Linked DNA regions of Homo sapiens: regions 2, 3, 4, 5 and 6 are each reported to be linked to region 1. Evidence: microRNA targets listed by miRTarBase, many of them from high-throughput screens and not tested one by one. Region 1 holds a microRNA gene; each other region holds the end of a gene's coding sequence.

The links. The annotated mature microRNA hsa-miR-4436b-3p reads CAGGGCAGGAAGAAGUGGACAA and lies in region 1 at 2,792-2,813, opposite strand. An mRNA with a match to its seed (bases 2 to 7 or 8) in the 3' UTR can be bound and repressed. Matches are read on the target gene's strand: a 7mer-m8 pairs with bases 2 to 8, a 7mer-A1 pairs with bases 2 to 7 and ends in A, and an 8mer does both.
Region 2: the mRNA of BCL7B is a reported target of hsa-miR-4436b-3p. Seed matches in the 3' UTR shown: 7mer-m8 at 3,187-3,193.
Region 3: miRTarBase lists SLC25A22 as a target of hsa-miR-4436b-3p. Seed matches in the 3' UTR shown: 7mer-m8 at 3,113-3,119, 7mer-m8 at 2,840-2,846 and 7mer-m8 at 2,436-2,442.
Region 4: the mRNA of ZNF614 is a reported target of hsa-miR-4436b-3p. Seed matches in the 3' UTR shown: 7mer-A1 at 743-749 and 7mer-m8 at 1,555-1,561.
Region 5: the mRNA of BCL2L12 is a reported target of hsa-miR-4436b-3p. Seed matches in the 3' UTR shown: 7mer-m8 at 764-770 and 7mer-A1 at 825-831.
Region 6: the mRNA of DRG1 is a reported target of hsa-miR-4436b-3p. The part of its 3' UTR that is shown has no 7-base or 8-base seed match.

The regions. Positions count from the first base shown.
Region 1 is chr2:110,083,652-110,087,737 of GRCh38, forward strand. It overlaps MIR4436B1 (microRNA 4436b-1), which reads right to left and starts at 2,872; the gene lies at 2,782-2,872. It overlaps MALL (mal, T cell differentiation protein like), which reads right to left. Exons shown (of 4, transcript NM_005434.5): 3 at 3,921-4,046; 4 at 219-2,106. The coding sequence ends at 2,044.
Region 2 is chr7:73,533,479-73,537,564 of GRCh38, forward strand. BCL7B (BAF chromatin remodeling complex subunit BCL7B) reads right to left here. Exons shown (of 6, transcript NM_001707.4): 6 at 2,878-3,912. The coding sequence ends at 3,820. Among named protein-coding and RNA genes, the nearest start is that of BAZ1B, 13 kb to the left of the region's middle.
Region 3 is chr11:788,535-792,620 of GRCh38, forward strand. It overlaps SLC25A22 (solute carrier family 25 member 22), which reads right to left. Exons shown (of 10, transcript NM_001191061.2): 7 at 4,019-4,086; 8 at 3,770-3,924; 9 at 3,608-3,683; 10 at 1,941-3,534. The coding sequence ends at 3,381. CEND1 (cell cycle exit and neuronal differentiation 1) reads right to left here and starts at 1,556. Exons shown (of 2, transcript NM_016564.4): 1 at 1,496-1,556; 2 at 1-124. The coding sequence starts at 42. RefSeq lists a silencer at 1,467-1,696.
Region 4 is chr19:52,012,336-52,016,421 of GRCh38, reverse strand. It overlaps ZNF614 (zinc finger protein 614), which reads left to right. Exons shown (of 5, transcript NM_025040.4): 5 at 1-3,098. The coding sequence ends at 582. All of the region lies in intron 1 of LOC124904755 (a long non-coding RNA gene), which reads right to left. Among named protein-coding and RNA genes, the nearest start is that of ZNF615, 6.2 kb to the right of the region's middle.
Region 5 is chr19:49,673,027-49,677,112 of GRCh38, forward strand. It overlaps BCL2L12 (BCL2 like 12), which reads left to right. Exons shown (of 7, transcript NM_138639.2): 7 at 672-890. The coding sequence ends at 722. It also overlaps a transcript of PRMT1 not described here. Among named protein-coding and RNA genes, the nearest start is that of PRMT1, 2.2 kb to the right of the region's middle. RefSeq lists enhancers at 3,730-3,879, 3,884-4,086.
Region 6 is chr22:31,433,282-31,437,367 of GRCh38, forward strand. It overlaps DRG1 (developmentally regulated GTP binding protein 1), which reads left to right. Exons shown (of 9, transcript NM_004147.4): 9 at 591-1,171. The coding sequence ends at 690. It also overlaps a transcript of EIF4ENIF1 not described here. Among named protein-coding and RNA genes, the nearest start is that of DRG1, 36 kb to the left of the region's middle.

The DNA of each region.
Region 1 (4,086 bases):
TACTGAAGTACAAATGACATTATAAACCCGAAGCCCTGGAGACAAATGTGACCTCCCTTCGCTCTTGCTCTAGAAGCAAGGCCGGGTGGGCTGGGATCCCACCCTCAGAGAACTTAGGTTGTGAAATGCTCCAAGGGGTGCTTTTCTTGAAATTACTGACAACACCTAGTACCTGATGGCCAGTTCCAGATGCTAACAAGATGAAGTCGACCAACTGCTCCTTTTTACCAAACAACTTTTATTTGCATGTGGCTACTTAGTAAATAGTAATCAGTGATCATCCTAGACAGCTGCCAGGCAACAAAAGGAGAGACACATAGAAGCTTTTCAAGGTATCAGGTTGCAAAAAAAAAAAAAAAAAAAAAAGTATCAGAGTGATCAGAAAGTGAGCAGTGAGCAGTAGTGAAGCCAGAATTTTCTTTCCCATGACTCCTGTAGTTCTGTCCCTGTCCCCGCAAACCCCAGGAGGGGAAAAATGTAGATACAAAACTGTAAGGCCTCAAACCAGTTAGGACAAGTCCCTTTCTCGTAATAATTTATTTCATTCCCAATGACAGAAGGCACGTGCAGTTACAGGGCTGTGCCCTATTCGTCTGGGTCAACAGAAGAGCACAGCTTTCTTTAGAAAAACATTTACTTTAAAACCAAGCACCTTGATTTGATATTTTAGTGTGCACAACTTTGCCCGTTGAGGTCCTGGTGAGCCCTTGCCCAACCCCGTGGGCACCACCATTCCGCCAGGCCTCGGAGGGCCACCGGGTGCTTAAGAGAATGTGAGGGGGGTGAGTGCAGGTGGCGCAGCGCGGTTCCTGGGACATGGGTCCTTCACTCCTCGCTGAGATGTTGCGGCAGCCTTTTCTTCCAATGCGGTTGTGGCAGGAGAATCCACGGATGTAATGTTTTCACCTTTTTCCCTGAGGGTGCTTTCTGAGGAACCAGTCCTTAAGAGGTGGGGTCTTGGATTCCTGACCCAGGCGTCCGGCAGCTGCTCAGTTTCCGAGATGTCAGACTCATGGAGGAGCAGGCTATGCCCTTCCCTCCCCATTCCCCACCCCTCAAGCCCCAGGTCTTACTGTATAATGATTTATTTTCCCCACACGTCTACCCTCAAAATTGGCTTCATGCAAATTTCCCTTGAATCCTAATGCTGGAGAGGAAAGGGGAGGGGAAGTGGGAGGGTGGTGGGCAGGGTGGCTTGACCCTGTCAGCCTCCCAGGGAACTCGGGACCACGGCTCCCCAGCACAGGCTGAACAAGTACCAGGAACAAGGTCTATGCATCTGCGTTAGATCTGAAGGCCTTGGCAGCACCTCTTCAATTTTAAGAGAATCAGGCCGGGCGCGGTGGCTCACGCCTGTAATCCCAGCACTTTGGGAGGCCGAGGCGGGCGGATCACGAGGTCAGGAGATCGAGACCATCCTGGCTAATACGGTGAAACCCCATCTCTACTAAAAATACAACTAAATTAGCCGGGCACGGTGGTGGGCGCCTGTAGTCCCGGCTACTCGGGAGGCTGAGGCAGGAGAATGGCGGGAACCCGGGAGGCGGAGCCTGCAGTGAGTGGAGATCGCGTCACTGCACTCCAGCCTTGGAGGAAGAGCGAGACTCCGTCTCAAAAAAAACAAAATAAAACAAACAAAAAAAAGATCAGACTGAGTATTCCCCTAGACCTACTCTAGGGAAGCCCATAGCTGAGGCAAAATCCCCAAACAGACTTGGCATTAGTGGGGCTAGGATTCTCCATTAGTGGAGTGAGGGCTTTGATGTGAGTTGTCTAGAAGAGCAAGTTCATGGTCAGATAATTCCAAGAGACAGTTGTTTTCCCAGGAAAAAGAAAAGCTTCCTCCTATTCAGCAGAGTGAATTTAAATGTCCAAACAAAGTGTGGTGTCATCGCTCAGTCTGCAAGGACGTTCTGTTAATCCCGTGGACGTTTTAGTGGATCTTCCGTTTGTCATCCAGATGGCAAACGTTGGAAGCTGCTTTTGGGGACCAATAATTGGAGCTTTCAAAGAGCATTTCCCCCTTGGCCTGGCGCCTGTGCATCAGTGGTAATAGATGCTGAAGGCATGGAGAATGTAGAGCAGCGTGGCGATGAAGGCGAAGAACTGGAAGGAGGTGGAGAGTGACTGTTAGAGACAGCAGCGCCAGCTCCTGCCCACCCCTCAGGTACCCTCAGCCCCACTGCCCAGGAGGCCACGCATGACCCTGCCTCCTCGCCTCCTGCGTGGCCTGAGGGCAGCAACCCCTGGCCAACAACTCCCTCTTCTGGAAACTCTCCATCAGGGCCTCCCTGGGGCCGTCCTGGTGTCCTGCCCCGACTGCAGTCTCCACCTCATCTGCACCTGGCTGTGAAGCAGGCTCACCTCCACCACAGCTCTGGGCCCATATCCCACGCTGACCTCCTGCCCGAGGCCCGCTCTCCTCTGCCCACCTCCAGCAAATCTGTGTTCTGAACACTCCTACAGCTCCCCTCGCTGGCCCAGAACTCTGCCCTGAGCGGCTGCTTATCAGCTCCTCGTGAATGTTCAGACATCCTCCAGCTCTTCCTGGCTCACACTGAGCCCCTGACGTTTCCTCACAAGCCTGACAAGCCCAGTGGGCCCCAGGGTCCTCCTCTCGCCCCACTCCCTGAGCCTGACCCCTGTGGCCCCTGGCTCCTCCTGCCTCCCTTGCCAGCCATATGCAAAGCCACCCCAAAGGCTACTGATTTCCCTGCCTAGCTCTTGGGACATTCATTTTTCCCTTGTCTCAGCCACCGGCATCCCTCGGCAGGACTCCTCATGGCCTCACTTGTCCACTTCTTCCTGCCCTGCCCCTCGAATCTGCTCCACCATTTGGGCAGGGCAGGCAGAAGTGGACAAGTGAGGACACTTCTCACTCATGGGGAGAACACAATCCCGTTGCCCCACGTTGAAGCTGTATGATGGCTCTGCTCTTTTCTCAGGGTAGGGCCGTCACCTTCAATACCTTTCAGGCCCTGCCAAACATCCCAGCCCCACTCTGCCCCACTGTCCACTCACACGCTCCTCATTCAGTCAGTCAGTCAACAAATATCTTTTAAGGACCTGCTTTCCTTCAAGAGCAACTGTGGGTATAACAGTGAAGAAAATATTCAAAAATTCCTGCCCTCATGGAGCTTACATTTGAGAGATAAGAAGCAGATAGCAGCAAGATAGATGAGTAGCACATACATGGGTTAGATGGAGGTAAATGCCACCCACTGTGGAGTGCACTGTGACCCTCTGGGGTGGCCACAAGATATTTCAGCTGCCTTCTGGCCTGTCTGCCTCCCTTCCCTCCTCATCAGGTGAGTTTAACTTCCTAAACTTGCAAGACCAGCAACGGCCCCTGCAATCCTCCATGGCCAGCTGTCCCAGCTACACCACCCTCCTGGCTGCCCTTGAGCACACAGAGGGTCCTTGGCAGGGGTAACTGCCTGGTGGGACCTTAGCAGGGGTAACTGCCTGGTGGCCCCTGCCTCCTTCTGTCCTCTTGACAGGGCCTTCCCTGATGCCTCCTCCCCTGAGACCTCGACATTCCACTTTCCCCTTCCCTGCTTCATCTCTCAATAGTTCAGCCATGCCGAGGGATGCGGGCCCCATTCCAAAGGCAGTGGGTGCCATTGAAGGATTTTCAGTAGGAGAGAGACATCTGTTCCAATTTGTGTTTTGGAAAAAGAAAATTCTGCAGACAGCGTGGGGGGTGTCTAAGAGAGAGGAAAGCTGGAGTGGGAACAATAGAAGGTAAAAGAGGACCCCTGAACGTGGGTGCACATGTTTACAGGGACACACATCCCTATCCCCTGCCCCCATGGCTCCTTCCACTTGAGGGCTCAGGGTCTATACAGCACAAGCAAAGTTAGGCCTCCTGCACGAAACATCCTCCAGGCAAGACTGCTGTCCTTGGCCAGCCCACTCACCGAGGCTGCCGAATTAATGTAGTAAATTCTTGGGTCCAGCAGTTTCTCAGAAACAATCGTGGCATGTACTTGTAGGACGGCAGCGCTCATGTACAGGATGCCAGTGGTCCCGTGGTACAGGCTGTCCTGGAAATGCAGAGCAGAGCCACGCATGGCCACATCAATC
Region 2 (4,086 bases), not on the chromosome of region 1:
TCAAGCGCAGTGGCTCACGACTGTAATCCCAGCACTTTGGGAGGCTGAGGTGGGTGGATAACGAGATTGGGAGTTCGAGAACAGCCTGGCTAAGGTGGTGAAACGTCGTCTGTACTAAAAATACAAAAATTAGCCAGGCACAGTGGCAGGCACCTGTTATCCCGGCTACTCAGGAGGCCGAGGCAGGAGAATTGCTTGAACCTGGGAGGCGGAGGTTGCAGTGAGCCAAGATCACGCCACTGCACTCTAGCCTGGGTGACAGAGAACACTCTGTCTCAGAAAAAAAATACGTATTTTGTGTACCACATACAATCACATTATCTGTAAAATTCATTTGACAATTTGATTTTATATGTCTCTTTTTTTGAGACTCCCTCTGTCGCCCAGGCTAGAGTGCAGTGTCATGATCACGGCTCACGACAGCCTTGACCTCCTGGGCTCAAGAGATCCGCCCACCTCAGCCGTCGAGCAGGGGATGCTACAGGCATGCACCAACATGCCCAGCTAATTTTTGTTTTTGTTTTAGAGATGAGGTTTCACCATGTTGCCCAGGCTGGTCTCGAACTTCTGGGCTCAAGCGATCTTCCCAAAGTGCTGGGATTACAGGCATGAGCCACTGTACCTGGCTGTTACATTTTTAAAAGATTATTACTTATTTTTTTAGAGACAGAGTTTCACCCTGTCGCCCGGGCTGGAGTGTAATGGCGCAATCGGGCTCCCTGCAACCTCCGCCTCCCAGGTTCAAGAGATTCTTGTACCTCAGCCTCCCAAGTAGCTGGGATTACAGACATGTGCCAGAACGCCCGGCTAATTTTTTGTATCTTTGGTAGAGATGGGGGTTTCACCACGCTGGTCAGGCTGATCTCGAACTCATGACCTCGTGATCCGCCCGCCTCAGCCTCCCAAAGTGCTGGGATTACAGGTGTGAGCCACCACGCCCGGCCTACATTTTTGTATTTGTTAATGAGACAGGGTCTTGCCATGTTGCCCAGGCTCGTCTTAACTCCCAGGCTCAGGCAATCTTCCTGCCTTAGCCTTCCAAAGTGCTGGGATTACAGGCCACTGTGCCCAGCCCTATATATATAAAAATATTTATATATATATATATATTTTGAGATGGAGTCTTGCTCTGTCGCCCAGGCTGGAGTGCAGTGGCGTGATCTCAGCTCACCGCAAGCTCCGCCTCCTGGGTTCACACCATTCTCTTGCCTCAGCCTCCCGAGTAGCTGGGATTACAGGCGTGAGCCACCGTGCCCAGCCCCAGCCCTATTTATATTTTGTAAGAAAAGATAAAACAGGGGCCGGGTGCGGTGGCTCATGCCTGTAATCACAGCACTTTGGGAGGCCGAGGCGGGCAGATCATGAGGTCAGGAGATCGAGACCATCCTGGCTAACACAGTGAAACCCCGTCTCTACTAAAAATACAAAAAATTAGCTGGGCGTGGTGGCAGGCGCCTGTAGTCCCAGCTACTCGGGAGGCTGAGGCAGGAGAATGGTGTGAACCCGGGTGGCGGAGCTTGCGGTGAGCCGAGATCCCGCCACTGCCAGCCTGGGTGACAGAGCGAGACTCCGTCTCAAAAAAAACAAAAACAAAACATAGAACAGTAGAACTTGTATTATAGTCTCATCCATGACACCTGGAGCCCCTGTGAGAAATGAGGGGAATCACTCCGGGAAATAAACAGATCTGTGGCTGCCAGGGCCCGAGGGGAGGGGAAGAAATGGTGAATGATGCTAACTGGACATGAGGTTTCCATTTGGGATAATAAAAAAGTTCGGAGCTGGACTGTGAGGACTGCCCAGCACTGTGAATGTACTCAGTACTCAGTACCACTGAAATGCACACTTCACAATGGTGACAAAAGTAACTCTTGGCCAGGTGCAGTGGCTCACACATGTAATCCCAGCACTTTGGGAGCCTAAGGGGTTCGAAACCAGCCTGGCCAACATGGTGAAACCCCACCTCTACTAAAATTACAAAAATTAGTCAGACGTGGTGGTGCACGTCTGTAATCCCAGCTACTTGGGAGGCAGAGGTTGCAGTGAGTTGAGAACACACCACTGTACTCCAGCCTGCTGGGTGACAGAGTGAGACTCTGTCTCAAAAAACAAACAAACAAAAACCTTTTATGTTACGTGTATTTTACCACAAGGGGGGAAAAAAAGAACTCATGAATCCCTCCGAACTACATGGACCTGTGGAAAACACATCCATGGGCTGCATTTGGTGTACACAGGGATGGAATTTGGTTTTGTTTTTTGAGATGGAGTCTCGCTCCGTCACCCAGGCTGGAGCGCAGTGGCGCAGTCTTGGCTCACTGCAACCTCCACCTCCCAGGTTCGAGCAATGCTCGTCTCAGCCTCCCAAGTAGCTGGGACTAAAGGCGCCTGCCACCATGCCTGGCTAATTTTTGTATTTTTAGTAGAGATGGGGTCTCATTTTGCTGGTCAGGCTGGTCTTGAACTCCTGAGCTCAGATGATCCACCCACCTCAGCCTCCCAAAGTGCTAAGATTACAGGCGGGAGCCACTGCGCCTGGCCTGGTTTTTATGTTTTAATTTAAAAATATTGTTTAGATAGAGATAGGGTCTTGCTGTGTTGCCCAGGCTGGTCTCAAACTCCTAGCCTCAAGTGATCCTCCTGCCTCGGCCTCCCAAAGTGCTGGGATAAGAAGTATGAGCCACCACGCCCAGCGAGAAGCATAATTTGAACTACGTGACAGCTTCAAAGGGAGGCTAGAAATCACTGTCATGAAGTCCACACTGTGGGAGTGAAAGGATGGGCAGGCCCAGCCCACAGTGACCCCACAAGCACTCAGCCACCACCCCCACCCCGGCCCGCAACCTTCAAGAAGGAAGCACTCAGATACCAACAGGACATATTTCAAATAGTTTAATTTTAAAAATATTCTATTCAGTGCTAAAATATGTCTTCACTCACTGTTGCCCATTTCCATTTTCTTAAACTTTTTTGAAACAAAAAATAAAATCACAAAGTTCAATTCAACATGCAGATTTCAAAGAAAAGGGAGCTTTCTAGAAACTGAGCTGAAGGGGTACTGTGGGGGATGGGTACTGTTGTCAGAACCTCAAATTCTTGCTGGGGCAGTTTGTGACAAGAGGCAGGGATGCTGGAATGACAGGTAGAGGTGAGAACAAAGCTGCGTGTGTGCAGATGTGTGTGCTGAGGGCAGGGGATGGGGACGGCGGCCACAAAGGGCTGTCAGCAGCTAGGGTGCCCGTGAGAGGTAGGACCACCTCAGGCATGGGCAGAGCTGGCAGGACAGCAAGAAATCTAGACGGACTCTCTGCCCTTGTGTGGAGAAAAGCCCTTCCCTTCCCTCCAATGTCTCTACCCAGTCCTCCAACAGCAGCCTACAGGGCCCCCAGTCCTAGGGGAAAGTCCGGGAGTCTACAGTCTCCGTTCAAGTTCAAGTAACCTGAGGCACGCTCTCTTCTAGAAGGTGCCTTCCACATCTCTCTCTTCTCGCAGAAGCTGCCAGCAGCTCCGTCCAGAGATTCTGGAGCAGAGACTGCTGCCTGGAGGTCACAGATGAATCTTGGGGTGGCCGATGCTCCAGCCAACTTGGGGTGCAAAAAAGACATGAGCGCTCCTCTTCTCGGGAGCAAGTAGACACAGGTGCCAGGGTCAGGAAGATGATGCTACAGCCCCAAGTCCTACGCCAGCCTTCCAGCCCGGAAGGCTCATGTGTGCAGGCTCTTGACCCCAGTGCTTGCCCTTACCCCAGCAACGCGGCGCGGCCAGAACCAGAATGCAATAAATAGAGGCAGGGCCAGGAGGCGGAGGGCCGGGATGGTGCTAGCTTTCTGACGCCGTCTGCGGCACTGTGGGTTGGTCCACACAGAAGCGCTTCAGGGGCGGGGCACCTGAGTCTTCCTCTTCCTCAACGACCTAGGAGCAGGCAGAGCATGGAATGCCAGGGCCACCCCTCCCAACCAGAACCTTCCCACCCACCCGAATTATAATGGGATGTCCACTCTGCTCCTTCCAGCAGATGATCAAACATCCTCCCCTGCCTACAACCCTGGGACTCATTTCCGGCGCTGCAGATCCAACCCCACATCC
Region 3 (4,086 bases), not on the chromosome of region 1:
GTCGGGCTTGGGGCTGCTGGCTGACTTCCCTCTGGACTCCATGGTGGGCGGGGCGTATGGGACAGGCAGGTGGCTGCACCAGAGGGGCTCAGGACAGTTTGTCGCCCCTGGGCATTCTATGGGCCTGGAGGGAGACACAAGGGAGGCTGCGCGCGGGTCCAGTCCCCCCTGTGCTGCCCCGACCACCTGGTCCCCAGGCAGCCCCTGCCCAGTTCTCTGGACTCTCTGGAGCCCCAGCTCAGGGGCCTCCCGTGGGCCTCTGACACTTCTCTTTCACGGCCTGGACTCCATCTGTCCATGACCACTCCTCAAGGGGCCCCTCCAGCCGCAGAGGCAAGGGCCACGCACAGGTGGGAGGAGGTAGGGGACCCCACTGTGCTCCATAAAATGGCCCATGCAAATGCCACATCCTCCCACCAGCCGGGGGCAGGAGGCTCTTGGTGGGGAAGTAAGGATCAGGCCCAGAGAACTCGAAGGAAGAGCATTCTCCCCTCCAAGGAGGTGATCGGAGCCCCAGTGGGAGAGCTGACTGCATCCCCTCCTCAGGAGAGCATTCCTGCTTTGCAGAGATGGACACTAAAGCACGGAGGCTGTGACCTGGCCAGGGTCCCAGGGGGAGGAGGGCGGGGAGGGGCAGGAGCTGGGATCTCAGGCAGCCATCAGGGTGGGTGGGCCCACAAGAACCCAGACTTGAGAAAACTGGGGTGTCTCTCCAGGAAGTCAGCGTGGGGCTGTGCTTCCAAGGGCCGTCTGCCCCTCCCCAGCCTCTGGGGCCCCCTCCTCAGCATGGGCCGTGCCTGCCTCCAGCCCTGGAGCAGGGAGTCCTCGCCCAGCCCAAGGCTGTGCTGTCTCTGTGGGCAGAGGGTTCCTGGCGTTAAACAGGGTGGGCACATGCTGCACTTGGCCCGCGGGTCAGGGCGGAGGACAGGGTTCTGGGCTGTGGGAAAGGCGGTGCCCAGATTCTCAATGACCGAGGCAGAGGTGGGAAGGGCCCTGGGGGCCCAGCCGCCCTGAACCTGAGTGGGTCTTGCCCCAAAGCCCCAGAGGCCGCCTGTCTGCCTCTCCCAGGGAAGGATGAGAAATGCCCTCCAGACCTGCAGAGAAAGGGAGGCACGTTCCCCACCCCCCGCCAGGTGCATTGACCACACTGAAGGTCACCCGAAGGTCACAGCATGATGAGGGCGTCTCCAGAAGAGGCCCAGCTGCTGCCACCTCCCAGGGAAGCCCAGCCGTCCCTTCACCCCTGCAGTTCTCGGGGGGCTCAGCTGCTGGGCATCAAGTTTGCAAAGAGCAGGTGGTCTGCCCCCCCAACCTCGCTATTTGTGGCACTTACATCCCGGCCGCCGCCTCCCTCTCCCGGGATCAACTGAGCCCTGGAGAACTGGGGGGCCCGCGCGCAAACCCAGTGACCTTCAAGGCCCGGAGCCGCCTCCTCGCCCCGCAGGACGCCGCGCCCGCCCCGCCCGCCCCGCCCGCCGGGAGCCCCCCGCCTTACGCGTCCTCCGGCCTCCCCGGGGCTGCGCGCTCCTCCGCGGGATGACGGCGGCTGCGAACGCGGAGGAGAGCTCGGGAGTTTCCCACAATGCACTGCTCCCGGCGCAGGAGGGCGGGGAGGGGGAGGGGCGACCGGGCCCCGCCCCGCCGGGAACCGTGGGATCCGCAAACCCAGCTCCGCCTTAGATCCAGGGGTAGAAACTTAGGGTCCGAGAGAGCAACTGCGGGGTCCAAGTCCCATCTGGGACTGCCAGAGGCAGGAGGCGGGTCCCGCTCAGCATCCCCTCTAGGCCAGGGTGCCCCTTGGTCGGTGGGTGACGGGTCGGTGGGTGAGGGGTCGGTGGGTGGGTGCGCAGGCCTAGCCCTGCAGTCTGAAGGGAGCCAGTTATGGGAAGAGGGGACTGCCCTCCCCCGCCCCCAAACAGACCCCCAGACAGACAGCAGCATCTACTTAGAATATTTATTTATTCTCTGACATGACAAGACACAAAAAGTTACAACTTCTTAAAACTCTTCAAAAGAAAAAAATATAATTCTGTAAGCAGCAGCAGCAGCTTCCAAGGTTCTGATGTGACGGGAGGGGCAGCTCCCAGGAGCAACCGTGAACTGGGGGGGTCCAGGCCTGAGCCCCAGGTAGTGTCGCTGGGAAGGGGCCTCTGTGGAGGGCCCCGGTTTTGGGGACACAGCACCAGCACATCAGGGTCTGTCACCAACACGATCACATGGCCAGGGCGGGGCAGGGAGAGCTTCGGCTCACAGCAGGGATCGCCCGGTGGCAGGGGGGATGGGGCTTCTGAAGTGTGGTCAGGGGCCTTATGCCCGGAGGCGGGAAGGATGGGGCTTCTGCAGTGTACCCAGGGGCCTTATGCAGAGGCTGAAAAAGGAGGGTGGGCCCTGAGAGGACTTGGGGGTGTGGCAGCTCCTGGCCCTCCCTCCAGAGCAGGGCAGGCACCCTCAGGCTCCACACTGGTCCCAATGCCCGCCCTGCTCCCTGGCCAATCCCAGGCCAGGGTGGAGGACTCAGGAGAGACCAAGCTGGGTAAGTTAGTTCCTGGACGGGGTCAACAGAGCCTGGGGCACACACAGCACACAGAGCGCCTGGCCACGGCGGGAAGGGGGGCAGTCCCCAGCAGCCCCATCCCCAAGGGCCAGGCCAGATCCCCACAACACACACACGCATGCACACACACATACACACACACATGCACACAGACCTCACAATCTGGGCCCCAGCCTGGGGTGGGAGCTGAGGAGCCCACCAGAAAGTCCCACAGTGGGTGGCGGGCTTGCCCCAAGAGTCAGACCTCAGGGCAACCCCTCACTTGGGATTCCTGGCTCAACAGAGAGGGCAGGAGACCCCAGTCCTCTTGCAAGGCTGGCCAGGGAGGCAGAGTCAAGTCCTGCCAAGGCGACAAGAGCGGCTGGGGAAGGACGGAAGGGCTGGAGAGCCGCTTGGGTCCAGCAGATTCAATAAATAGGTTTGTGTGGGGTGCCTGTGTGGGCCAGGATGGCTGTGGAGACTGGAGCTGGTGGACTGGGGGTATGGTCCAGCCTGCCCGGCCCAGGCCCGGGGGCCCCCAGCCCAGAGACCAGCTCTGTCCCTGGGGGTGTTCAGGCCAGGGCAGGATTGGGGCAGGGGCTAGCTTGAGGAATGTAAAGATTTCTGCATTTTCTACATAAATGAGACATTGATCCCAACGGTGCAGGCAGCACCCCGGGGGGCTTGCGTGTGCACCACCTATGTGGACCCTGCACCCTGCCCCCTGCTGCCCCTGCCGACGGGAGGGCTGGGGAGGGGTCTTCCCTTGCTCCGTCCTGGGCTAGCTGCCTGGCTCCAGCCCCACACCGGCCCTGCCCAGCTGGCTGGGGTGGAGCGGGTGCTGGGCTCAGGCCTGGGGGTCCTGCAGCAGCCCCAGCAGGGACTCCGCGATGCCCAGGAAGTAGACCACCTGTGCGATGCCGAAAAGGGGCGCGATGACCAGCGCGCGGCAGTAGGCGCCCTTCAGGAAGGCCGAGGGGCCCTCGTGCCGCAGGATCTTCCTGTGGAGGAAGGACGAAAGGGTCAGCCCGGTACGCAGGCCCCCAGGCCCCACCCGCCGTGGGACCTCCCCACCTGGCACAGTCCAGGATCCCAGAGTAGGTGTCCTCGTTGACGCCTCGCTGAAGTGACTGGAGCCGCGTCTTCACCACTGCAAGGGGCGCTCGGGTCAGTGTGAGCCTGGCCAAGGGCTCAGTCCCGCCCCATCCCCAGCCGGGCGCCATCCCATGCACTGACCATCACAGGGGTTGACGGCCACAGCGGCGGCACTCCCAGCCACACAGCCGGCCAGGAAGGACACGTAGAAAGGCGACTTCTCCTCGGACGCCGGGCGGCCCAGCTGGTTCAGGTTGGCAAAGAGCGGGAAGTACACCACAGAGAAGGGGACATCCCTGTGGGGAGGGAGGTGGCCGTGGGGACAGGAGGTGGTGGGGTGGGCAGGCCGGCCTCCCCCTTCCCTCCCCCCACCTGCCCTGTGCCTCCTACCTGAGCAGCGTGGCCCCGAGTCCCTTGTAGAGACCGGCAATGCCACGGCTCCGCAGCAGGTCGCGGGT
Region 4 (4,086 bases), not on the chromosome of region 1:
CACACAGGAGAAAAATCTTACATATGCAGCGAATGTGGAAAAGGCTTCACTGTCAAACGCACTCTCGTTATACATCAGCGAACTCATACAGGAGAGAAATCTTACATATGCAATGAATGTGGTAAAGGCTTCACCACAAAGCGCACTCTTATTATACATCAGCGAACTCATACAGGAGAAAAACCCTATGAATGCAATGAATGTGGTAAAGCCTTCAGCCAGAAAATATGCCTCATACAACATGAGAGATGTCATACAGGAAAGACTCCCTTTGTATGTACCGAGTGCGGAAAATCCTATTCACACAAATATGGCCTCATTACCCATCAGAGAATTCACACAGGAGAGAAACCTTATGAGTGCAATGAATGTGGAAAAGCCTTCACCACAAAGTCAGTACTCAATGTACATCAAAGAACGCATACAGGAGAGAGGCCGTATGGATGCAGTGATTGTGAGAAAGCCTTCTCCCACTTATCAAACCTTGTCAAACATAAGAAAATGCACACAAGAGAAATGGGTAGAATCAGTCAAGTTGAAAACTCCTGTAATGGAGAGTCACAGCTCCTTCCTTATAAGTGAACTCATGCAGAAGAAAACCCTACTAGTGCCGTGACTATGGAAATGCCTTTTGTGGCAACTCAGACTTCATTAAACATCAGTGTGTTTCTAGCCAATTGGAACATAAACATGGTGCTGCCTGTTGACAGATGTGTGTCTGTCCTCAGGAGGTGAAATAATTTGCCCTAGAGATCAATTTGATGAATACAGTAAATAAGGTAGTGCCTTTAGTGGTCTTTTACCTCATATTTTCTGTCAATGAAAATACGTTGAATAAACTATATTAATGTGGAGATGTTTTGAGCAATAATTTCTGCTCATATGTCTGAAAAGTATACAGAGATAAATTCTGTGAATACAAAGACTAAGAAAAGTCTTCTGTGGAAAGATAGACTTTATTATCAGGTTTCATCATAGATTTCAACGTAAGTGAGCTTATTGTTGATAGAAACATGATGACCATGACAAAGTCTTTACTCAGAAATATGACCTCAGTGAGTGTCAAAGTTTACACTGGAAAATAACTTTAAGGTGACAGTATTGATGGCAGGATTTCAGCGACGCACTCTGCTTCATCATTTGTCAGGAGATCACATAGAAAGTAAAATTGTTCCGAACATGCTATCAAATAAATGTGGAACACCTTTAGCAAACTATCAACAGCTCATGAAGGCATGAAATGTGGTGAAAATGATGAATATTTGAGTGCTTTTTCTTAATAAGTATAACCTTAAACATCAGCTAATACACCTGGTGTGCATTTTCAGTCAGGATACCTTAATCCTCATTTCTAGTTGCCTTGCCAATGATTCCATAATATACTGTCTCATTACTGTTTATTTTTACTGTTGTGTAAAATTGTGGTATAATGAGAAATACATTTGGTCTTTGTTCCTGGTTCCTGGCATAGAGCTCCTAAAACGCTTAGAATTTCATGAGTGATAAGAGTTTTTTGGTTTTGTTTTGTTTTTGCTGTTGTTGTTATTCATAGCACTGCCCTTTTAATTACACCTGATTATACTACTGAAGTGACTTATGGTTGCTCCCCTAGACAGCCTCAGAATGGGGCTGTTCTCTAGGAAGATCAAGTAACTAGAGGATGGAGACTTTGTGCCCCATTTCTCCCACCTCCTGGAAGGGGAGGGGTGCTGGAGATTAGATTAGACAATGAGATTAAGAGAACTCCAAATAGCCCAAGAGGGTGGTGCACCCCCAACTTCATAGGGGTAGAGGCTCCTGAGATTAGGAGAACCCTTTTTAGGCTTTACTCTATGTACCTCTTCATTTGAGTGTTCATTTGCGTCCTTTATAACCAGTAAAACAAAGTACGCTGTTTTCTTGAGTTTTGTGAGCCCTGTAGCAAATTATCAAACCTGAGTAGGGCAGTGGGAACTCGGAATTTATCACCATTCAGAACTGCAGGTTGTCCTTGTGAGTGGCATCTGATGTGGGGGAAGTCTTGGACTGAGCCCCTTAACTTGTGGAGTCTGCACTAATTTAGACTGCACTAACTAACTTGCACTGCACTAACTTGGACTGCACTAACTTGTGGAGTCTGCACTAACTTGGAGAAGTTAGTGTCAGAATTGAATTATAGAACACCCAGTTGTTCAGAATTGAATTGTAGAACACCCAATTGGTGTGGGAGAATTAGAGAATTTATTTGTGTCAGAAAATACTCCAGAACAACCACCCCATATTATGATTAGCTCTTTTCCTTTCTTTGGCTCTGAGCTTAATTGTACATTAAGCAAACTTAAGTAGAAAAGAAACTGAATATGTTAAATATATTAACAACATATTTGGACTTGCTTAACTAAGATTATAGAGATGATCAGTTTATAAAACCACCTTCAACTTAAATAAATTTGAACTCGAAATTGCAAAAGCAGTCTAGAGGCTTTGCTAGTATCCTTCAACCAATTTCTAGTAAAAATATCCTATATAACCATAATTATCAAAACCAGAAAAACAACATTGGTAGGATACTATAAAGTACTAATCTTATTTTGGATTTGACGAATTTTTACATGTTTTTTTCTTTTTTAGTTTGTACTCTAAGAAGTTGTATTACATGTACAGATTCGTGTAACCACTGCAACCACATAAAACTAATGAACACAAAGTCCCTCATGCTACCTTTTTATGCTTACACTCCATCCAAACCTAACTCTGCCAACCACTTTTCTCCTATCAGTATAATTTCATCATTTCATGAATATGATAAAAATAAAATTGTTTTTGTAAATGGTTTTTATAAATTTTATATAAATAAGTTATATGAATTTTTATTGATAGAGAGTATGTAAGCTTTTGGCATTTTTGTCACTCAGCAAATTACTCCTAAGGTTTATATGAGTTGATGAATAGTTGTTTTATTATTTTTTTTTACCACCATGTATCTAACCAGATGAAAGTTGTTTATATTTGAGAGTAGTATACATATTTGATGTAGTAGTTTATCCATTCACCTATGAGATATATTTGCACTGTTTTCCTGGTTTTAAGTGCTATAAATAAAGATGCTGTGAAATCTACATACAGCTTTTGCTTTTGCTTTTTTTTTTTTAGGATTTACAATCTTAACCTCTTTTTTTTCTTTTTTAAGAGACAGGGTCTCTTGAGAGGCCGAGGCAGGCGGATCACTTGAGGTCAGAAGTTCAAGACCAGCCTGGCCAACGTGGCGAAACCCTGTGTCTACTAAAAATACACACAAAAAATTAGCTGGGTATGGTGCTGGGCTGTTGGGAGCCGAAGGCCCATGGGATGTGACCAACTCAGCATTCCACTGGAGGCTATATGATCAAACAGCAAACTTTATCATGAATGCACGATGTGGGCAAACTCATGACTGCTTCCGCTGCCAGAAGGTTTGCTGAGGGCAATCGCTTCCTGGTGCTGAGCTCCTTGAGGTTATCTACTGGGACATCTAGAGAATGCCATCTTGCAAACCCTACTCTGGACTGAGTAGCTGACCCCTTCTTCCACCCGCCTTCTCACTATCTCTTTTGCCTAATAAATATGGAGGGCTGTGTAAAGCTCAGGGCCCTTGTCCACTAGAGGCAAGGTGTCCCCTGATCCCTTCTTCCAAATATACTCTTTTGTCTCTTTTATTCCCGTTTCCCCCACTTTTTTCAGTCCCCCTAGGTCCTTGTGGGTTACGTAGTGGCGCCCCAAACAGTGACAGGATCGGGCGCTCTACAGTTGGCGCCTGTAATCCCAATTACTTGTGAGGCTGAGGCAGGAATCACTTGAACCTGGGAGGCAGAGGTTGCAGTGAGCTGAGATCCTGCCACTGCACTCCAGGCCTGGGCAACGGAATAGGCTCTGTCTGAAAAACAAACAAAAACAACAAAAAAAAGAGTCTCTGTTGCCTAGGCTGGAGTGCAGTGGTGCGATTATAGCTCACTGCAGCCTCAAACTCCTGGGTTCAAGTGTTCCTCCTGCGTCAGCCTCCCATGTAGGTGGGACTATGTGTGTGCACCCTCATGCCTGGCTTTTTTTTTTTTTTTTTTTTTTTTTGTA
Region 5 (4,086 bases), not on the chromosome of region 1:
CGGCTAATTTTGTAGTTTTAGCAGAGACGGGGTTTTGCCCTGTTGGCCAGGCTGGTCTCGAACTCTTGGCCTCAAGTGATCCACCCACCTCGGCCTCCCAAAGTGCTGGAATTACAGGCTGAGCTACCACGCCTGGACAATTTCTTAAAAAATTTTTTTAAAGTAGGATTGATAGCAGATGAGTTTTCTCGGTGGGCCAGGTCCTCTGCTAGGGATTTCAATGGAATGATCCCATTTAAACCCACTACAACCTCATGGGGCTCTTATTGTCCTCGTCTTGTGGGGGCAGAGAGGAAAAGTCCCCAGCATGCAGAGTGTTGGAATCTGGATTTGTACACAAAGCCACGACTCTGAATTGTTCAAATCCCAAGACTCTCTTCCCCATCTCTGACTCTGTCCCCCAACTCTTCACTCTCTCTGGATCTCTGTCTAATCCCACTCCAGTGTCCTGACCCTCCTCGAGCTCAACCTTTCCTCCTCCTGCTAGGACCCTGCCCCCTCATCCCTGTGCCCTTCTGTCTGGGTCTCTGTCCCCTTGTCTGGGTGTCTGTCACCCTCCGCTCTCTGGTTCCTCGCCTTCCCGTCTCTAATCTCACAGGGCTGATGTGGACGCTGCTGTATGGGGGGAACACCTGCCCTGCTCACAGGGCTCTGCCACTTTTCCCTTCCAGGAGGGCATCCTGGCTGTTTCACCCGTGGACTTGAACTTGCCATTGGACTGAGCTCTTTCTCAGAAGCTGCTACAAGATGACACCTCATGTCCCTGCCCTCTTCGTGTGCTTTTCCAAGTCTTCCTATTCCACTCAGGGCTGTGGGGTGGTGGTTGCCCTACCTGTTTTTGCCAAAAATAAATTGTTTAAAACTTTTCTTATTAAAAACGTTACAAAGTATTCAATTGTCTGTTCTTACACTTGGGAACTAAAGTTTTAAGGAGAGGAGATTTGGTTCAGAGATTTCTGTGGCTTACGCAAATTGAGGAAAGAACCAGTTCATTCATTCTAGAAATATTTATTTGCAGCACCTACAAGAGCCTGTCTCCTGGACATGTAACATATTTGAGAGAATACCTGTAAATATTCCAGCAACTTGCATTTTTTTTTCCTATTGCACGATCTGGTTATTCTAGCTAATGCTGTATGATGGTCATGGAGTCTTTCCAGTGAATTCCACAGAAAGGTACAGTCTAACTTCACCTGTGTCTAGGACACCACCCTCTTCTTGTTTTTCTCCTCCCATTGCTCCTTTCAAGTCTCTCTTGCTGGTTTCTCATCTACCTACAGACCAGTGGTTTGTCTCACACACACCCCCCACTCTCCCTTTTTTTTTGGAGATAGGGTCTTGCTCTGTTGCCTATACTTGCACTGTTATATAGATACAGTGGCACTATCATGGCTCACTGCAGCCTCAACCTCCTGGGCTCAAGTGATCCTCCCACTTCAGCCTCTCTAGTAGCTGGAACTAAAGGCATGCGACACGACGCCTAGCTAATTTTTAAAAAAGAATTTTTATGGGAGGCCAAGGCAGGTGGATCACTTGAGGTCAGGAGTTCAAGACCAGCCAGGCCAACATGGTGAAACCCCATCTCTACTAAAAATACAAAAATTAGCCGGGCATGGTGGTGGGTGCCTGTAATCCCAGCTACTTGGGTGGCTGAGGCACGAGACTCGCTTGAACCCGGGAGGCAAGAGGTTGCAGTGAGTTGAGATCACGCCACTGCACTCCAGCCTGGGCAACAGAGCGAGACTCCGTCTCAAAAAAAAAAAAATTGTAGAAATGGGGTCTCCCTTATGTTGCCCAGGCTGGTCTCCACCTCCTGGGCTCAAGTGATCCTCCTACCTTGGCATCCCAAAGTCCTGGGATCACAGGCATGAGTCACTGTGCCTGGGCGGTTTGTCTCCTTTATAGGGCCATATCCCCCTTCACAGAGTAATGTTTGTAAATTAATAAGTGAAATGTACAGGATTACAAACCGAACCAATTACAGTTGATCCTCAGTATTTGTAGATTATTTGCAAATTTGCATCCTTGCTACAATGTATTCATACCCCAAAAATTAAGGCAGTGCTTTTGTGGTGTTTTGGAGGGCAATGCTTATGCACAGAGCTGCAACAAGCTAAAGACCTGATGTGCATATTTGCAGCTGGGCTCCTCTTGCTTCAGCTCAAACACTGGAAACAAATGTCCTTTTCTTGGTTTGTTTAGTGCCATGCTTTTCAATTTTTTTTTTTTTTTTTAAAGTTAGAGTCTCGGTCTGTCGCTCGAGCTGGAGTGCAATGGCTTCATCCTGGCTCACTGCAACCTCCACCTCCTGAGCTCAAGCGATTCTCCTGCCTCAGCCTCCCAAGTAGCTGGGATTACAGGCGTGTGCCACCAGTCCTGGCTAATTTTTTTATTTTTATTTTTATTTATTTTATTATTTTTTGAGATGGAGTCTCGCTGTGTCGCCTAGGCTGGAGTGCAGTGGCACCATCTCAGCTCACTGCAACCTCTGCCTCCCGGGTTCACGTGATTCTCCTGCCTCAGCCTCTGGAGCAGCTGGGACTACAGGCGCCCACCACCACACCCGGCTAATTTTTGTTTTTTTAGTAGAGACGGGGGTTTCACCATATTGGCTAGGCTGGTCTCGAACTCCTGAGCTTGTGATCCGCCCACCTCAGCCTTCCAAAATGCTGGGATTACAGGCGTGAGTCACCGCGCCCGGCCAAATTTTTTTTTTTTTTTTTTTTGAGACAAGAGTCTCGCTCTGTCACCCAGGCTGGAGTGCAGTGGCGCGATCTCAGCTCACTGCAAGCTCCGCCTCCCGGGTTCACGCCATCCTCCTGCCTAAGCCTCCACGCCCGGCTAATTTTTTGTATTTTTAGTAGAGACGGGGGTTTCACCATGTTAGCCAGGATGGTCTCGACCTCCTGACCTTGTGATCCGCCCGCCTCGGTCTCCCAAAATGCTGGGATTACAGGCGTGAGCCACCGCGCCCGGCCGCCTGGCGTAATTTTTGTATTTTTAATAGAAATGGGGGTTTCACCATGTTGCCCAGACTGGTCTCGAACTCCTGATGTCAAGTGATCCGCCTGCCTCCGCCTCCTAAAGTGCTGGAATTACACCCGTGAGCCATCGCGCCCGAACCCTATTGTAAATTTTAAGTCTCAGGCGTTTGCCAGCGGCACGCCAGAGAGTATAGCCTGCGCGGAGGCCCAGAAACCAAAGAGCGAGCTCATTCCGGGATTGGAGAGAAGTGTGAGCAGAGGGAAGTAGAGGGATCGGGGAGAGGAGGGGCAGGACCCACGCATTCGGCCCTTTGCATTCAGCTTCATTCAACTAGGAACTTTTTCTGCAAATCAAGGAAAGCTTCCCGGAGGAAGTGGTGCCTAAGCTGTGCTCTGATTCACGTTTAGAAGCTGACCAGACAAAGAGAGGTGGGCGTTCCTGGCAGGGGGAGGGACTTGGCAAAAACCAAGTGGCTTGAGAGGGGTTGATGGTTTTAAAAAACTTGGAATGATTATGTCAAGGGCTAGGGATTTAATGTGTTGACGACGGACTCCTATTCCTCACTTGCTTCGGGACCCCAGCTATGCCCTTCCTCTCTCTGGGCCTCTCACCGATTCCGTTTTTCCCCCAGGTAATGAGCACAAGCTCCCTTTTTCCTCCAGACTCCCCCCGGGTTGGGAGGATCCACCGAGTGGACGAGGAGTGATAATTCCTTTGAGCCAATCGTTGGTGCCTGAAGCCCCGCCTTCTTCCCTACCCGTGGGCCAATTGCCGTGTTCTCCTTGAGGCCGGCCGCTTGGCGAGGGTGGGCCAAAGGCTGCGTGACGTCGCTTCCGGATAAACCAATGGCAGCGATTAGGAGGCGGGTCGTTTTGGTGATGGACAGGTGTTTCAAGACGCCCCTTTAGCGCGGGGCTCCCCGGGAAGCTTTGAGGCGGTGCTGGGTGTAAAGGGGAGGGCATTCCTGGTGGATTTTGCCCAATCACCAGTCGCGCTTCTTGCAATAGACGGGCAGTTTTCCCCATCCCGGGTCGACTTGAGGGGGCGGGATTCTGGACGCCAGAGTTGGCAAACCCCTGACCTATGATGGACGTATTCTCT
Region 6 (4,086 bases), not on the chromosome of region 1:
TTTTTTTTGAGGCGGAGTTTCGCTCGTTGCCCAACCTGGAGTGCAACGGCATGATCTTGGCTCACTGCAACCTCCGCCTCCCGGGTTCAAGCCATTCTTCTGCCTCAGCCTCCCGAGTAGTTGGGATTACAGGCACCCGCCACCATGCCCAGCTAATTTTTGTATTTTTAGTGGAGACGGGGTTTCACCATGTTGGCCAGGCTTTTCTTGAACGCCTGATCTCAGGTGATCCGCACCCTTCGGCCTCCCAAAGTGGTGGGATTACAGGCATGAGCCCCTGCGCCCGGCCCAGAGTATTTCTCTATAACAAATCCATGCTTTCTTTTAATTTTAAACTAGGCTCTTTATACTAAACATGTTTTTTGTCTTTGACTTTCTGCAATAAGAGGAACCACACAACTTCCAGAAGTCTTTACCGGCTTTTATGTTAAGGCTTCAGTGTCTCATGCTGCTAGGGAAGATAAAGCTTTTGTAGGTCTATGGTTCTTAAGGGTATGATACTAAATCTGAGCAGAAGGGTGGCATCCAGGCAAATAGGGCAGAAGCTAGGTTATTATTTACACTGACTGTTCTTTTTCCCTTCCATGCAGTGCTCTGGTCTGGGGTCTCTCTGTGAAACACAATCCTCAGAAAGTGGGTAAAGACCATACGTTGGAGGATGAGGATGTCATTCAAATTGTGAAGAAGTGAAACCTTTCCCTTTTCCCATCTGCCGGACGAACCACAACAGCGTTCCCCATGATCAAGCACCCTACCCCAGTTCTTTCTGGTTTTGGCAGTCACTGGATCAGGATCCAGGGGAGGGAGATGGAGGCACCCAAACTGGAACTTCATTTGTCTTACCTTGGTGTCACCTTGTATGTCGAACTGCATAAAAGATCTGGTAGGCTGGTCAGCTACATGCAGCTCATGTGTCATTGTCAGAATTTGTTTTGGGATGGGCTGAATGAGGAAGGGTATATACGGTGAAGCAGCTACAGAAGGGATCCTTGGGAACTTCATCTTGAGTGTGAAATGGATAAAAATATGACATGCTGCATCTTACTTGATGTTTACTTATGGGAACCCCTTCCAAACTAGATATGGCTTTCAGTCCTTTCAAGTAGTCTTTCCCACATGATACTGGAGAGAGGAAGGACTTTATGTAAGTTAATTGATCACTCCCCGCAAGGCTAACCTATTTTGGGAGATCATGTAATTAAGTACTCCGACCAGGCAGATCAGGGTTTGAAATTGCAGGTCCACCTCTAGTTAGCTGTGGAGCCCTGAACAAATTACCCAACCTTTATGAGCCTCAGTTTCCTCATGTAACATGGGGATAGTAATAGCACTTACTTTCTGCGGTGGTGATTGTTAGTAATGGAGGGAGATGGTACTTATATGTCAAATACTGTGCTAAGCAATTTGTAAGTACTCAATGACTCTTGGCTTTTGTTGCACCGAGCCTTTTACTGGGCTGTCTGCCCTATGCAGAGCACAGCTGTACATCATCAGTGTTGGGTTGAATGTTGAGCTGAACTATGTTGCCACCTGGGCCACTAAAATGCTTTTTTCTTTTTCTTTTTCTTTTTTTTTTTTTGAGATGGAGTTTCGCTCTTGCTGCCCAGGCTGGAGTGCAATGGCATGATCTCGGCTCACCGCAACCTCCGCCTCCCGGGTTCAAGCGATTCTCCTGTGTCAGCCTCCTGATTAGCTGGGATTACAGGCAGGTACCACCATGCCCCGCTAATTTTGTATTTTTAGTAGAGATGGGGTTTCTCCATGTTGGTCAGGCTGGTCTTGAATTCCTGACCTCAGGTGATCCGCCTGCCTCAGCCTCCCAGAGTGCTGGGATTACAGGTGTGAGCCACCGTGCCCGGCCAACTAAATGCCTTCTTTCCCATAACCCAGACTTTCTGCTTGAATCCCCATGAAAGTCCTGGCTTCAGCCAATAACTTGGGCGAAGGTGCATTGCAAGTGAGGCAACTGGTGTGATCAAAGCAGGTTTGTGTGTTCACATATGTGTATATATGGAGGTGGGCGGTTTAGGAGGAGGCTTGGTGTCAGGACTACTTGAGAGGATGCTAAGGACATAATCAGATATTTGGGGGACTAGGAATATAGGAATTTAAGGGGATTGCTCTGATTATGTGAAACTGGTTGATGAAAATCTTGGTGTGGTGGGTAACAATATGGACGGAGGGGGCTGGGCCCAGTAGCTCACACCTGTAATCCCAGCACTTTGGGAGGTCAAGGCAGGAAGATCGCCTGAGCTCAGGAGTTCGAGACCAGCCTGGACAACATAGCGAGGCCCAATCTCTACAAAAAAATTTAAAAAATTAGGTGGGCATGGTGGTGCATGCCTGCAGTCCCAGCTGTTCGGGAGGCTGAGGTGAGGACTGCTTGAGCCTGGGAGGTCCAGGCTGCAGTGAGCTAAGATGGGCCACTGCACTCCAGCCTGGGTGACAGAGTGAGACCCTGTCTCCAAGAAATAAAAATTAAATAATTAAAGAATATGGGCAGAAGGGAGGGTATGGACATGTAAGTATGGGGGAGAAATCTTAAACTTGTTAACTAACTTGCTCTTGGGAAGAAGTCAAACATTATTTCAGTATGGATGGAGTAGTCCCTGAGAAAATCAGGAAGAATAGGTTTGCAGCAAGACAGAATTTGATTATTTCTTCAAATGAGGCAAGCCAGAGCTTTTAGCAGGTCATGAGTGATCACAGTGTGGGATTATTCACATACTCAGCCTCTCTCCAGTGCTTGTTTCTCCTGCTGCCCTAATAGCAGTTGTTTCCCTTTGATAGTCTTCCTGGAGCTTGGGCTTGTCACTGTCCCCAGACCTGGAAGGTAAGCTCCTGAAGCCTGGTATGCTAGTTACTTTTCAGAATATCGGCCTTGATACCACTGGTGCATTCATGATAGAGGCCGTGGTCTAGAGCCTGCCCCAACCCTGCAGGGGAACAGGGAAACATTGGCTTTCTGAGCTACGGGATTTCCAGGAAGGTTTGTTCTCCAGCCAGAACATATTGGGTTTCTGGGGACTCTTCTTGCCAAAATTCACTTTCATTGAGCAAGCATTTAGCACTGCCAGAATGTTGGGGAGAGAAGGTTGCTGAAATCCAGTTCATCCTAAGGCCTCAGGATGTTCTGTGAATAGGCTTTGTGTCCATCATTTAGCACCCTCCCCATGGCTTGGTCCAGGGACCCCTGGTCTCCTTGAGGAGAGAATTACCCTACCTTTCCCTTTCTCCTCTGGGCTTAGACTTAGCAGTTCTGGGAGAGGGGTATGTTTGGTATTGGGAATGCTGCCTAGGGTATGGCCACTGTGGAGGTACAGCTAAAGGCTTTCTCCTCATTAACTCTAAGACTTTACTGGTTTGGCTGTCATAGCATGATTTGAATTTCCTGTGCTTTTACATATTCCATGTTTCTTTCCTGACTTTATTACAAGTAAACAGATCCATTGTTCTGTGCCATTTAACTAGTTAGAACACGTTTAGCTGCATTTAGCAGAAAGTGCTAACTTAAGCGGCTGAAATGGAAGGGAACTTGGTCTTACCTTTTTGGGAAGCTGTTTTCCAGAAGCCACCCAGTTTGTTGTCTCGTGGCCTAAAATTGGGTCACATGTCTATTTTTGAATCAATTGTTGGTAAAGGGAATAGAATTATTGAAGAACCAGAATTTAACCCTGTAAGTTATCGTCATTCTTGGTTTGTGTTTATGCTCATAGTTCACAAAGGCCAATGGACCTCCCACTTCCCTTCCCTGTTAATAGAGTCTGGCTTAAAAGACACTCAGTAGCTATCTCCTAGGGGAAGGCCTAGCTGCACTCTCTGTTCACTTCATTCCCACTTCCTTTTACCACTGACCTCCCACAGACTTATTTAACTGCTTCCTTTGGGAGGGACTATTCTTTCCTCTCCTACCTGACCTCCCCTGCTTAACAGATTTTCCATGATATGCTTTGTGGTCCTCAGCTGTTTTACTTTCAGGATGCCTTCTATATCCTCAGCTTCTCTTAACTTTTATTTTGCACATCCTTCCAGCACTGATTGCTTGTGAACTCATCTCGTGCCTGCAAGACATCAAAAGTTTCTCCA